2 linked regions of the Homo sapiens genome follow. The protein of the gene in region 2 purifies or fractionates together with the protein of the main gene of each other region. This does not show direct contact. Each region holds a gene or a part of one and is shown on either strand. Other genes may lie near its edges.

Region 1 (4,292 bases), on a different chromosome or scaffold from region 2:
AATAATCTATTGGTTCTTTATCATCTCCTTTATCATTTATATTACAAAAAAATTAATACTGGAAAATGGTAAAGACTTTTGTGTGCTGCTTCTGCTGACATGCTGACATTTAAAAGGAAGATAAAATTTATTTTAGCACTTTCATTTCCTCTCGTAAATGGAACCCAGATCCTCAGGACACTTTATATTTTGCATGAAATATTTCTCATCCATTTGTTCTATCTGTGAATTCTGGAGTTCCATTCTCTTGCCTTGCATCCTCATTCACACGCATGTGCTTGGTATGTCCTAGTGAACTTGGTTGATGTGAAGGAGGGTACACAGGTTTTATGCTCTGGGCAATTTCACAGCAGTGCACAGTAGCTCCTCTGTCCCTCGTGCATGTGCTTCTGCTTGTCTTCAGCATGTTACAAAGATGGACCCGAGTTGCAATGGTTCCCATCGCTGTTCTAATGTCTCCAGGTATATCTTTCTTCATACTTCTCCAGCATAGGGGAAGCTTTAGTTCAAGCATTTCTTTTTTTTTTTTTCCAAATGCAGAAAAAAAGTCTTTATTCTCATAATAAAAATAAGTCTGTTCTGTATTTTACAATATATTTCAAATATTTCCACTATGAAGCATTCATTAGTCCCACACGGTCAAGAAGTATACAACCTTTTCCAAAGACAGAGCTGCCGGGAGTGTGTTTAGGACACACACCTCGTACAGCCGCACTTCACCACTTTCTCAACCTCGTCCACAAAGGAGGAGCCGTCAGTGCATTCGAAAGAGTATTTCCGCCGCTTGCTCCTCAGCGGTCCACAGCACTGCCCTCCTGCACACCCACCTCTGCACTCTAATCGGGACACCTTCTTGGTTGTTTGGCAAGCAGCATAGCCCTGCTGCTTTTGGTAATAATCTCTTATCCTTTCCCCTCGACAAGAGATTTCTAGAAAAGAACAAAAAGCACAAGCATTTTAAGAACAGTCACTGTAAGTCATGCAGAGTGACTGTGAATCCACAACTTAATTCAGAAGCCTTTGCTTCCCCTTTGTAACTTGCTTTACATATTATTAGCTGGTGGCACGGCCTCCTATTCTTTGAAAAATACTTCTTTTTAGTCTCTATTTTCAGCAAAGTGAATGCTATTATGTAGAGTATAAATACAATGCTATTGCAGTGACAAGAAAATTGGATTCCTAAATATTTTCTTTCATTGCAAAAAAGGAAAAAAAGTACACATCTTCTGTTTTTACACTACTAACAGCTGGTTTTGTTTACCACAGGGAGCAGTTTCAGAGAGTATGCCATTTTATTTATTAGACCTGGAGTTTAATATTATCCAATCTGTTACTTAATACAAGTAACATTCCATTAACTTCATAAATTACCCCAGTATGAAGTATGTAGTTCAAAAAAGAGACATCTGCTAAAAGCTTCCATGGGCACGTTCCTCTTGTCTCGTCCCTTGGACACACAAAACAAAATCCGTGCCAGCTGGAGGCCAGGCGAGCTCTGATCACGCAGACAAAGGAGAAGGAGGAAGGTGAACTAAGAAGTCAGCCTGTTTCCGTTCCTCTCACCCACATGATTTGCTGTGATAAATCAGTCGATTCTAAGGCCAAAGGTCATTTTGTACTAAAACTAGAGCAGAATTAAGAGGACCATCTTCTCTGTGCCAGAAGATGAATTAATAATATATACGGATGAGAACAGCCGGTAAAGGTAAGACAGGAGTAAAGTAAATGTGCTTCTCCATCAGGTAAAAAGGAGCATTTCTTTTACAACAAATCAACTTGTGAGAAGCATCTGAAGGCTGTATACAATCTTGCGGTGGAGGTTTAAGGTCATTTCACAGCTGGTGCCTTCAAAATACTTGAAAATAAATCAATAGCAGCAACTGCAAGTAGTGAGAAGACCTAGTATTCTCTCCTGTCACTCCCCTCTCTCTGTCTCTGTTGCTCCTGTTTTTTTTTTTTTTTTCACTTTTTCTCCCTCTCTTTTCAAAGACATGGGACCCCTCTTGCTTTGCCAAGAGAATGAGGTGCCCAGTGGGGCTGGCTTACCTCGATCACAGCTGTCCCCCGTGTATCCACTGCTGCATTCACAGTAGGGCTGCCCCAGACCTGAAAGCCTGCACTTCCCATGCTTGCACTTGATCGCCTGGCATGGGTTAAACAGATCCTCCTCTTCATCACAGAGGACACCTCCATGGCCCTCCAAGCACTTACAGCTGTAGGAGAACGCATTGATGGGCAAGCAGGTGCCATGTACGCATCTACAGGGAGGAGGAACACAGGAGTGGGAATGCATTCAGAAGAGGAGGTAAGAATGAACGGAGGTGATATAAGAATGGAGGATGATTGAGAAAATATGAGGGACAGAGTGCTAATGCCTAACGAACCTCCCCTCCCCTCCCCTCCCTTCCCGTCCCCTCCCCTTCTTCTTTCCTTCCTTCCTTTGGTTTGGCTTTGAGGCTTTCAGGTGTGTGCTCAACTCCCAAGCAGCAGGAACTTACTTATTTCCAAGGCAAGGGTCATTGGTCCGTTGGTCACAGAGGGGCCCCATCCATCCTTCCTGGCACTCGCAGGTGAAGCCTGCCTGGCTGCTGGGCTGGCATGTGCCATGGGCACACACCTTCTTGTGGCATGGCTCACAGCCAGGCAAAATGCCTGTTTGCATCGGCACCTTCTGGAAGTCCTGCAGCTCACTGTTGATGTAAAGGTTCCGGATGCAGCCGTGGAAGCTGGTTCCGTTCTGCCCAGGGGCCTGGCGCAGAGATGCCACGTTACTCTTCCCTGGCATGCCTGGGGAGGAACACCAGGTCAGAGGTCAGGCTCTCTGGGGATTTCTGAGCCATTTGCTACTCAGAAATACTGATGCTTGGGACCTCACTGCCAACCTATTATGGCAGGATATTTGGGCAGGGTGGTAGGGAAGTGAAGTGGAGAAGAGATGTAGAGATGTGTGTTTTTGTTTTGTTCTGTATTGGAAGATGCTCCAGGAAATTCTAATCCACAACTAGAATAAAATACCTAGTTGATTGGTGGTTAATCTTTAAAATTTGCTTCAAAGAAAACTTTACATGTACACAAATATATAAAACCTAGAGGCAGAGCTACTGTCCTTAAAGGCAAGACTGGGGGAAGGGAATGTTCCCTCTCTGTTTGTCCTCCACCCTCCACCTCCAGGCACACACTCCTGGAAGTCTGGAGCTCCATAAAGCTCAGTTTATGGTGCTCTAATTCTACCCCTTATCTTAAAGACAAGGGGCTAGGGCTCAGAAAGCCCTGGTGACATGCTCAAGGTGACCCAGTGAGTTCAGGTTAGAGTTAGGCTGATGAGAAGAACTCCTCTATCTCTGGAGTCAGGGTTAGGTCCACCAGGTTTCAGGGGCTGACAGCTGGGGTTCACAGTGACCATTCACCCCAGCCCTCCCACATTCGAAGTTAGCAACTAATTCAGCTCACTCCTGGCAACGTCCCTAAGCTTGGTCAATGATGTCAATGCCTAAAAACTCACTCCTGATTCTTTTCAGGACAGCACCTCATTCACATCATTTTTTCTTTCTTGCTAATTAAGAGTGAAGACTTCATAGTCCAAGAAATCAGAAATAAAAATGAAATCCCTTCAAAAACAGAGTATTTGCAATCTTTGTATATATACATTCCACTAGTGACAGTTATCTGGTAACACTCATTTTGGCAAAACGGAAGAATCTTTCCATGGCCTAAGCCAGACCCTTAGTCCGTGGAAGGCATCCTGCAGAAGGCACCCATCCAGGGAAGGGGGGAGGGTGCTGGAAGCTTTCAGAGTGCTGGCTATACCACCACATCCCCACAACCCCGTAATTATGCTTTAGCTGTGCCTAAACTCTGGACTACTGGCTGGAAGTTCTAGGCTGAGGAAGACCCAGTTTCTCACTCTTCAGGGGGTCTGTTGGTTCTAAAGACCAAGAACTGTAGCACACTCTGGGTCTGAACTTATGCCACCTTCTCCTTTCCCATTCATAGGAAATGACTCATCCATTGGCATTCAAAGCAGGCATCAGTCAGACAGCTAGGTGTACGAAACCACTAGGTTATACGGTAAGGATTTCTGGTTCTGCGTGCACTTGGAGCAGTTATTTCTTCTCTCTGGGGCTTAGTATTGTCATCTATACACCATGAGCATATGGACCAGAGAAGTTGTCCTAAGTTTGTCATACATAAGAACCAACAGCAGTGCATGCTCAAAGGCAGCTTTACAGGCTCCTCTCTCCCCTCCTTCTGAGGTTCTGATCCTGTAGGAACAGGAGAGGTGCAGAAATCTA
Region 2 (5,084 bases):
AGAGAGATAAAGAATATTCCACATAGACTTTCAATATTAAATGTATGCAAAGCACTTATCATAGTGCCTGAGATACAATAATCATTCAATAAAACTAGTTGTTTTAACAATGATGACATGATAACAGTTGTTAGAAAGGCAAGGGGCATGAGTGAGGAGTAAGATGGGGAGACCTCACATACCTATGAAGACGCAGTCTGCCTCCCTGGGCTCTAGACCGAAACCAAAGCTATCCACAGCCACTGCCAGGGCCCGGGCAAAGTGAGCATCAGCGAGGAAGGAGCCATCGGAGGAGCTGACAAGGCTGGCTCTGGCGCTGGCGGCATTGTCCTCAGAGGCTGAGCCCCAACCATTGGCTAAGGAGCCCTCGCTGGGGGTGGGGGTGAGGCAGGGCCGAGGTGGGCACAGCAAGACTCCCCCCTTGGGCCCCACCCCTCCTCCAGTCCTGCCCATGTCCGTGAACTCTGAGGCTGTTGGGACGCTGATGTACCCATAGGTGGTGGGGGGTGAAGGAGCCCTTGGCATGGGAGAGACGCTGTTCCTAGGGAGAGGCAAAAGGGGAGACAGCAATGGTTTGGGTGGAATGAGGGTTGTAGTAACAGAAAAGCCCCAGTTGAGGGAGGGCGGAATGGGTGGAGAGGCGCTTGCCCCCACAGCTTTTCTGTAGTTCTTTGGTTATCTCTCAAGCTACTCACCTGGGAGTCTCCTCACCCTCACTGAGTTCCAAGCACAGGGCTACCTCCTCAGGGGTCAGCACGCTGTCTTGATCCTCCCCCAGGGATGACAGTGAGGAGCTGGACAGGCGACTGGAAGCTGGGCTGGGGCCAGAGAGGGAAGAGGCCTGGGGGCTAGGGGGACTGCAGGGGCTAAGGATGGGGATGGGGGCTGCTGGCAGCAGGATGGAGGAGGGAGCCTGTGGTGCCACCGGAGGCCTGATTTGCGGGAGAGAGTGATGGCACCGTAGTTACTACAGCTCTTCAAGTCCTTTCCCCCCTTCCCCAGCCTGTCCAATCCCGGCACACACTCCCCACACCCCCACTCTCCCAGCCCTGCTTCCCGACCCCATGCCCTCTTACTGGGTCTGTTGACTCTGAGTTGGGGGAGTTTCATGAGGAAAGAGGGGTGCTGGAGGGAGATGACGAGTAACCAGCTCATTTGAGGAGCTGAGGAGTTTCGGTCCCAGGGCCCGCCAGGCAACCAGAGCTTGGGGCACAGCTCCTGGGGAAGAGAAGCCTGGGTGTGAGAACAGTGGCATCCCCATCTGCTCTGGAGCTCAGCCTGCCGGCCTGCCCACCAGCCCCCTTAGCTACCTGTCCACTACTCCATCCAACCCTCATCAGCCTCCTCAGGGAAAGGAGGATGAGCCCGTGGGAGGGCCCTGGGCTGGTAAGCCCCTGCATCCCTACACCCTATCTCACCCCTTCACTTCCCTTTCAGGGACCCCCTCTCACCTGGGCTTTGGGAAAGGTTCTTGGAACCTCTATTTCCTAACTCACAGGCCCGGAGCTCCAAGGAGTGGCTGCCCCGGAGCAGTGGGGAACTGTTGGCATGCTGCAGCTCTGCAAAGAAAGGGTTGGTGGTTGTGGGGCCCAGGATGGACTTTTCAGACCCCAGCTGCTGGCTCTATCTTCAGCCTTATTCAATTCAGCCTGCACGACCCTGAACCCAGAGAAAAGAGGGGGAACCCCCTGAATCCCCTCCACACCCCCATCTTCATCCAGCAGCTGTGATAGGGTAGAAGGAGCACTAGGCTTGGGGTCAAAAGACCTGCCCAGCTCAGCTGTGTGACTTCAGGGCAGTCCATGTACCTTTCTGAGTCTCAGTTTCATGTGTAAACAACCACTTCGAATGATGGTCTTGACAATTAAGTAAAAACAGATTGCACAAGTTCTTGGCCTTGATAGATGCTTTAAAAAACAACTTTCTTTTCCTTGACTGTATTCATTCCAATCTTCCTGATCTCTATACCCTCACATTGCTACTCTCATGAATTTTGGCTCAGTAAGAAAAATACTCCTTCTTTTCTTGGACAGAATCTATTAATTTCCATTTCTCACATTGCAAATATCTCACATGGCTCTGGATAGCCCTGCTCTGGGAAACTCGACTGTCTCTCACTTGAAAGATGGGGTAGACTGTCAGGTTGAGCTGAGTGGGTAGGACAAAAACAGGGATCGACACACAATGTTGGCTGTGACAGGAGACAGTCAGCTAATAGGAAGAGGAACTTCAGAGTGGGAAAAGGTATTGGTCTATCCCAGGGACGCAATGCCCTGCCCATACTTTTTGTTGAATGAAAGAGTGAATGCATGGGTGATATCAGAAATGTGGATATAAACACACAGTGAGAAGAGTCACCTAGAAGATGGAAGCTGTCATCTGGCCCACATGGGCAGTGGAGAGACAGGGCTCTGAGTGAACTTTCACAACAGAGAAGCTGGAAACTAAAGAGACAGCCCTAACTATGTGCAATGACCTGTGAGCATGCTTCTTGGTCAGACCAGAATGCAAAAGGGATCTAAGTTTAAGCCAGAGAGGAATAGGGTAATACAGGAGAGAGATTTTTCCAGGAGCAGGAACCTGAAGAACATCAGACAAAGGAGAAAAGAAACAGCCTTTAGATTAGTGTCCCATGACCAGAAGCCCAGCTAGGAAAGAGTTTCCCCTCTTGGTGGACCAGGGACCAGGCAGGACCTTCAGGGTAGAGCTATCTAGTCAGTCACATATCAGAGATCTGGGGGCCACTACGGGCAGCTTCAGAGAAGGGAAGTGAGCCAGGCTTTGGCATTGACCAAGACCCCATTTATGTACTAGTGGCCAGACCTTCTGATCCTTTAGGATGAAAACTCATCAATGACTAGACTCCCTCCGTCAAAGTTTCCTTTGGTACTTTGGCTGTTTGGTTTTTATTGATTTTCTATAGCTTTCATATGACCCAGGTAATCTGGGGAGCCAACTTCAGGGTTGGTGCACCAACTCTGCTATCATCAGCTATGTCTTGTCTGGTGCCTGGCTTCTTGACTAAGCTCAGAAATATGAGCACAAGTTGGTTGGCTGGTTTGAGTGGAAAGGGAAAGAAAACAGCCAGGCCTGGAAAAGGCCACTTTTATCCTAGCCTGTTTCACTTCCTCTAAGGGACTCTGGTAACAAAAGCCCTCCTCCTATGTTGCTTGGAGTTACTTGGACTTTAGTTTCAATTCTAATTGAATAAACTGGACAAGAAAAATGTTATCAAGGTGAAAGGTTGAAACTCATTGGTCAAATTGCAATAAATATTTGTTTGAATAAAATAATGAATGAATGAGGATATTCAGTGCATATATCTGGCAAACTGAGCAGAACTAAGAACCTGCTATGATGGATGAGAGACAGGAGACTGTAATTGTGAGGATATCAGCACTGGAGAAGAAACCCCAACTAAGGCCAAATAATAAGAAAAAGGAACAAGCAGGTCAAGGGGAGTGGGTGGTACTGGGAGAGCCTGCCAGTTTTAGAAGAGGAAGAAACAGCAGTAGAATCAACTCCATGGGTCTGGAGAAGACCATAGCATGATCTTGTTGCTGCTGAGGTCCTGGGAGGTAGAGGTAGAATATCTAGTGTCTACCAGCCAAGGAGTCGCTGCAGTTGACCTATCCTGGGGGCAGTGGTGAGATGGGGCTGGAGCGAGGAGAAACAGGGAGTGAAGTAAGGACCTAAACCACAGGCTAGGAAGCCTCATCTCAGAATTGGAACCCTTCTTAAGAACTGGCTGTAGAAAACCACTCACCTCTTTCCAGTAGCATTACTGTTCTAAGAGGGGCTATCCATTCCATTAAAGTTGGTGTAGTTCTCCCTGGGAAGGCTGTTTTTTAAATGAGACTATTCCACCTTTTTTTTAGCTGGTGTTTCGTTACCACCAAGGATTTATAATGCAATAGCTCTGAGGCAAAGCTGGTAAGAATGCCAGCTTCGCTGATATTTACAGTCATAAAATTCTGGATATTGAACAAGCTGTTAATTATCTTAATCCATCTTTGTCTTATTAAAAGTTGGATTAAATCCACTTAAAAAAAAGACTTGGCTGTAGAACATTTGTTAGGTCTTACTAATTAGTACAGAAGACTCAAGAAGACAGCAGGTAGATTGCAGGCCAATGTTCTGCAGGCCAGAAATAGGAAAAAATACTCAAAGAGAGAATAGGATTTCCTGAGGGAGCTCCAGAGAGACTCAGAATCACTTCAGAGGCAGACTATCCTGCCTTCAGATTTGAGTCCTGCAGCTAATTACTTGCAGAATTTTGAACCAGTAACTCAATCATTCTGACCCTCTTCCTGTCTGTAAAATTAGAGAAATAGTAGCTAGCCAATCTATTGTGAGGATTAAATGAAATAACAAACATAAGTAAAGCACCTAGTATATAGCAATTGATAAAAAATGGAGGCTATAATTATTTTTCTCTGAAAAGTCTAAGAATGCAGCTGGGAGTCAGGAGATAAACCTGTCCAGAAAGGAAATACCCATTCCTCTCTGAGAAGTGAGTTGGGAGTCGGTGCCCAAGCACACCTGTACATAGTACACCAGGAGATGAGCTCGTGGGAGCCTGAGGCTTTGTGCCAGCACTGGTCACATTCCCCCAGGCTCTAGCATTACTTGTTTGCTAGTCAACACTTTCGTTAGACAGGCCCTGAGCCCTTAGAAGTCAGGGGCTGTGTCTGACGTCTCTTGTGTTCCCCATGTTTGGCATGCAGTGGTGCTTATTAAACGTTTGCTGAGTTGAATTGAGTGCAGAATTAGGGCTCACTGCTGGTGTAGCCAAACTGAAACAAGAGCACAGTGCAAAAAGCTGAGGCTATTGCACCCCTAGCTGAGTGCTCTGGTGGTAGGAGAAAGAGGTCTTGTGTCCACCTGGAGAGGAGAATGGAAGGAGGGTGTGGAGGTTGCACGCCCCTCCAGGCTTTGAGGCCTTGTTCCCATCACATTCCCATTCCTGGGCCCGCCTACCACCAGCTCAGTCTATGTCTATTCTCCCCCTCCTTACCCTGCTTCTTTTTGGCCTTCCAAGCCTCTGCAGGGGCCAGAGACAAGCGGGGAGAAGAGAGTCCCCT

The links. The genes of interacting proteins can lie anywhere in the genome.
Region 1: the proteins of ROBO4 (region 2) and SLIT2 purify together in Homo sapiens (affinity purification with western blotting, with the first as the bait; one study listed by BioGRID). This does not show direct contact.

What each region holds. Positions count from the first base shown.
Region 1 is NC_000004.12:20,615,405-20,619,696, reverse strand, and holds part of SLIT2 (slit homolog 2 protein isoform 1 precursor), read right to left. Parts: intron 2,788-4,292; coding exon 2,499-2,787; intron 2,259-2,498; coding exon 2,047-2,258; intron 930-2,046; coding exon 688-929; 3' UTR 1-687. UniProt on the Homo sapiens protein: Thought to act as molecular guidance cue in cellular migration, and function appears to be mediated by interaction with roundabout homolog receptors.
Region 2 is NC_000011.10:124,886,282-124,891,365, forward strand, and holds part of ROBO4 (roundabout homolog 4 isoform 1 precursor), read right to left. Parts: coding exon 5,018-5,084; intron 1,560-5,017; coding exon 1,452-1,559; intron 1,219-1,451; coding exon 1,077-1,218; intron 933-1,076; coding exon 696-932; intron 542-695; coding exon 183-541; intron 1-182.